Linked DNA regions of Homo sapiens: region 2 is linked to region 1. The links come from fine-mapping of genetic effects on gene expression. Tissue or cell type: ovary. Region 1 holds a variant in brackets; the other region holds the start of a gene. All regions are shown on one strand. Distances are between the middles of the regions.

Region 1 (2,762 bases):
TTCTTTGTAACCCCTGCTTTTTTTTTTTTTCTCGCTTTCTATTTGCTTGGTTAATTTCCTGCATCCCTTTATTTTGAGCCTATGTGTGTCTTTGCATGTGAGATGGGTCTCCTGAATACAACACACTGATGGGTCTTGACTCTTTATCCAATTTGCCAGTCTGTCTCTATCTTTTTTTTTTAATTTTATTATTATTATACTTTAAGTTTTAGGGTACATGTGCACAACGTGCAGGTTTGTTACATATGTATACATGTGTCATGTTGGTGTGCTGCACCCATTAACTTGTCATTTAGCATTAGGTATATCTCCTAATGCTATCCCTCCTGCCTCCCCCCGACCCCACAGCAGTCCCTGGTGTGTAATGTTCCCCTTCCTGTCTCTATCTTTTAATTGGGACATTTAGTCCATTTACATTTAAGGTTAGTATTGTTATGTGTGAATTTGATCCTGTCATCATGATGCTATCTGGTTATTTTGCACACTAGTTGATGCAGTTTCTTCATCATATCATTGGTCTTTATGTTTTGATGTGCTTTTGTAGGGGCTGGTACCAGTTTTTCTTTTCCATATTTAGTGCTTCCTTCAGGAACTCTCTTGTGAGGCAGGCCTAATGGTGATGAAATCCCCATCATTTTTTTGTCTGGAAAGGATTCTATTTCTCCTTCACTTATGAAGCTTGGTTTTGCTGGATATGAAATTCTGGGTTGAAAATTCTTTTCTTTAAGAATGTTGAATATCAGCCCCCAATGTCTTTGGCTTGTAGGGTTTCTGCTGAGAGGTCCACTATTAGTCTGATGGGCTTCCCTTTGTAGGTGACCTGGCCTTTCTCTCTGGCTGCCCTTAACATTTTTTTATTCATTTTGACCTTGGAGAATCTGATGATTATGTGTCTTGGGGTTGATATTCTTGTGGAATATCTTAGTGATGTTCTCTGTATTTCCTAAATTTGCATGTTGGCCTGTCTTGCTAGGTTGGGGAAGTTCTCCTGGATAATATCCTGAAGTGTGTTTCCCAGCTTGTTTCCATTCTCCCCCTTTCCTTCAGGTACTCCAATCAATCATAGATTTGGTCCTTTTATGTAGTCCCATATTTCTTGGAGGATTTCTTCATTCCCTTTTATTCTTTTTTCTCTATTCTTGTCTGCATCCCTTCTTTCAGCAAGGTGGTCTTCAAACTCTGATATCTTTTCTTCCACTCAGTCAATTCAGCTGTTGATACTTGTGTATGCTTCACGAAGTTTTCGTTCTGTGTTTTCCATCTCCATCAGGTCATATATGTTTCTGTCTAAACTGGTTATTCTAGTTAGCACTTCCTCTAACCTTTATCAAGGTTTTTAGCTTCTTTGCATTGGATTAGAACATACTCCTTTAGCTCAGTGTAGTTTCTCATTACCTATCTTCTGAAGCCTACTTCTGTCAATTCATCCATCTCATCCTCTGTCCAGTTTTGTGCCATTGCTGGAGAGGTGTTGTGATCATTTGGAGGAGAAGAGGCACTCTGGCTTTATGGGTTTTCAGCATTTTTTCATTTATTCTTCATGAGTTTGTCTAGTTTTGATCTTTGAGGCTGCTGACCCTTGGATGGGGTTTTGGTGGGGACTTTTTTTTGTTGTTGATGGTGTTGTTGTTGCTTTCTGTTTGTTTTTCTTTCAATGGTCAGGTCCCTCTTCTGCAATTTGCTGGGGGTTCACTTCAGGCCCTATT[C/T]ATCTGGTTACCTCCTGCACCTGGAGATGTCACTCAAGGAGGCTGGAGAACAGCAAAGATGGGTGGGTGCCTGTTCCTTCTTCTGGGATCTCTGACCTCAAAAGGCACCAACCTGATGCCAGTAGGATCACTCCTGTGTAGGGTGTCTGACAACCCCTGTTGGAGGGTCTCACCCAGGTGGGTGGCATGGGAAACAGGACCAGTTTAACAAGCACTTTGACTGTCCTTGGTGGAGGGAGTGTGCTTTGCTGGGGGGTAACCCACTTGTCTGTGCTGCCTGGATTCCTCAAACACACCAGGAGGAAAGGCTAAGTCTGCTAGTCTGCAGAGACTGCAGCCACCGTTCCCCCTAGGGGCTCAGGCCCAGGGAGATTGGGGTTCTGTCCCTGAGCCTCTGGCTGGAGTTGTTAGAGTTCCTGCAGGGAGGCCCCACCCAGTGAGGAAGGATGGGTCAGGGTCAGGCCTGAAGAGGCGCTCTGGCTGCAGTTTCCCATATCTGGTGTGTTGGGCTGTGGAGGACACCTTTTGGGATCAAGCCGTCCAGCCTTCCTGGCTCCAGCAGGGGAAAAGCTTGGCCTGGAGCTACAGAGACGGAGCCCAGGAAGCTTAGCATATTAGGCAGTTATGAGTCCCAGTGCAGGTTGCTGTCCCTCTCCTAAGGAGCTCAAATGGCTTAGATAGGCAGCAGCAGCTTTGGTGCTGGTTGCCCCTTTCCCCAGGAACTTGCCAACCTTAAGCAGATTCTAGCTGAGAGGCTGTTGAGAATCTGTGCAGGTCCGGGATTGGGACCCTAGGCCCTGGTGGGGTGGGTTTGCAAGTGGGATCTTCTGATCCGTGGGTTGCACAGTTCCGTGGAAAAAGCATGGTTTACCCTGCCGGGTAGCACGCTCACTCATCACCTCCCTTGACTGGGGGATGGGGACTCGCCTGCCTCGTGTGGCTCTCAGGTGGGCCACTGCACCACACTGCCCTTCCTTCCTCTCTATGGATCACACCAGCCGTCTAGTCAGTTCTGATGAGAAAAGCTGGATACCTTGATTGCCAGTGCAGGATTCA
Region 2 (2,762 bases), 86 kb before region 1:
GGACACAGGGAGGGGAACAACACATATTGGGGCCAGTTGGGGGAGTGCGGGGTGGAGAGAGCATCAGGAAAAATAGCTAATGCATGCCGGGCTTAATACCTAGGTGAAGGAAGGGTTGATAGGTGCAGCAAACCAGCATGGCACATGTTTACCTATGTAACAAACCTGCATATCCTGCACATGTATCCCGGAACTTAAAATTTTTAAAAATCGTCAATAATAACAATGAAAGCAGCTAACGTTTTTGGGTACTTGCTATGTTCCAAACACCGAACTAAGCTCCTTACATGCATTATCTCATTTAATACTCCCCAAACTTCCATGATGGCAATAGTATCCTGGTCCCTGTTTTGCAGATGAGACACTAAGGCACACAGAGGTTAAATAACTTGCCCAAGATCACACAGCTAGTAAGTAGTAAGATTCAAACCCAGACCCAGACCGTGCTGTCAATCAGTATACTTTGTGACCACCTAGTGACATCACAGGAACCACACTTCCATCACCTATTTTAATGCCCTGAATGTTCATCCTAATAAATGCACATTAGACTTGAGTGGGTAAAAATTCTGAATGTACTGAGTCTTCTACCTTGGGCCAATCCTTCTCTTCAAAATGAACCTGCATGGGAATCAATGCTGAAAGTGGAAAGAGACCCCAGACAGGCCTGGCATCTGTATGCATAAGACAGAAAACCATCTCCCTGCACCCCTACTCCCAGTTAAAAGGCTGTGGGCATCTTTGAGCCAATGAATGGGCTGCTACAAAGAATTCTGGGAATCCCAACCCCTCACAGTTCTGCAACTCACAGTCCTGCAAAAGGTGGGTACTAGAATAGGGAGGTGGGCATATAGGCCAAATACTCTGTTCTGCCTTCCAGGAGGGAAAAAGCATGCTACCCAGGAAGCTCACAAGTGACATGTGGCCCATGGGCATACCAGGGCTAAAGTGAAGGATGGACTGCTCTGTGGAAGGAAGGAGTGAAAGTGAACAAGAGGCATAGGGCCACCTGCAGGAAGACTGAGAGGAGGGAAGGAGGAAGGCTGGCTTTGGCAGGGAGGGGAGGCAGGAGCAGAGGGAGCCAGAGGATCGGTTCAGGCAGTGAGAGAGGGCAGCCCCACTCTATTTCCCAGGCTGCTCTCTGGATGCAGGCAGGAAGGTTGAGTGTATTACACTGGCCCCACCTCCAGAGGCTCTCTCTGCAGCCGCTGGACTGGACACAAAGCGTGAGAGACAGAGACACCATCTCTGCTGATTTGTACCTAACTGGTTCCTGTTGCTGAGAGCCCACGTGTCACAGAAGCCAGGGCAGAGGCCCCACACTGCTGTCTGCATTTCCCAGGTAAGCAACCGTCTGTGTGTGAGCCAGGAGTGGAGAGCAAGGCCTGAAGGCGGTGAGCAGAGAAGAAAGTAGGAGGCGGCTGCCTAGGATGGACTTCAGTACAATCTGGAAAGAATGAAGGAAAGAAGAGGGGTATGGGCTGGGGTTGCAACAAGCCCTTAGGGTAGGCTTCTGCAGAGTGTTGATGGATGTATGAGGTTGGGGAGTCAAAGGCTGCATTTGGTCCACTCTTGGCTGGCAAGTGCAGAGGAAGTTCCAGCAAAGGACTGCTCTGACAGCCTCTGGGGACTAGCACATCTGGGGAGCAGAGAGGCCCGCCATACCATGGCATCAGTGTTCCTCTTTCAGACCAGGTATATTTGTGCAGACTTTGCCAGAAAATCCCTCCCTGTGCCCCTGCCTGCCTCCAGGTCTTCCTGGTGGTCGAGAGCATGCGTGTGGCAGCGACAGGAGGAAGAAAGCAGGACATATTCACTGGGGATATGGCTTCAGATGGAGGAGGGATACCTCATCTGAAAAGAGAGTCTCCTGACGGGCTCTGGAGAGGAGATTGGTTAGCTAGTGGAGGGCTGTGTGCCACCCTAAGGAGGCTCCCCTGTGGCCCAGAGGAAAAGAATGACACACAGACTGTGGAAAATGGGGTATTTGTGCTGGAGGTGGGGTGGGGAGCGGGTAAAGTCAGTGATCTGTGAACAGTGCCACAGAAACAGGCAGTATGTTGTCGTAAAGAGGGAAAGAGACCTAAGACATGTGTTTCATACAAATCCAGCATCCCTTTGCTGTCCCTGCTGGGGGACCTACAGCCCCGGATCAAGCCTGCTGGTCTGAGCAAGTTCTATGAGGTTGGCTAGTGGTATGTCCCCTCTATGAACTACACATTCACTCCCTAAGATCCACTATGCTGAAAATATGTCAGATCTGGGCTCCTGTCAAAAGGCATGCCAGCTACCCTCTGCCATGTGATGGGTGAGGGAAGCAGTGAGAGAAGAGGAGTGGTCCCTGGGCTTTAGGGCACAAAGAGACGTGAGATGCTGAATTCCAGTCACAACTGCAATGTGTCCTCCCTCCATCCATGGCTTCTGTATCCAGAGCAGAAAGTGAGGATTCCTCCATACTGCTCCCTCTTCATACACACAGGGTAACTGGGCTCATGATCAGGCAGAAACCAGGGAAGAACAGTTTAATGAGATGGGGATAGGGTTAACTGTACCAGCCAAATACAAAGATCACTCCTTTTATCCAGTCTGAGATGGCAGTGAAAGGTGGGCAGAGGTAGAGAGAAGGAGCTTTCAGAAGGTAAATACTCAGTGACTAATACTCTTGAGCACCACAGGCAGTGGCCTCTGCAACATGGGTCCTGGCTCTGATGGGCAGCCACTGGCCTCTCTCTTTGGCGGAGGGCAATCTGGGTCAATGAAAG

Direction of the effects. Alleles are on the strand shown, and positions count from the first base shown. SD is a standard deviation of normalised expression in the study named.
For the expression in ovary of the gene that starts at base 1,198 in region 2, allele T in region 1 goes with a higher level than allele C (large effect, 1.4 SD a copy in GTEx).

Evidence for each region. PIP is the estimated chance that this variant, and not a neighbour inherited with it, causes the effect.
Region 2: ZNF648 starts here. The variant in region 1 is fine-mapped to the expression of ZNF648 in ovary (GTEx, PIP above 0.99).

Annotation. Positions count from the first base shown.
Region 1 is chr1:181,974,623-181,977,384 of GRCh38, reverse strand. No RefSeq gene overlaps it. Among named protein-coding and RNA genes, the nearest start is that of ZNF648, 86 kb to the left of the region's middle. The variant C/T (reference allele first, on the strand shown) is at 1,707.
Region 2 is chr1:182,060,148-182,062,909 of GRCh38, reverse strand. ZNF648 (zinc finger protein 648) reads left to right here and starts at 1,198. Exons shown (of 2, transcript NM_001009992.1): 1 at 1,198-1,342.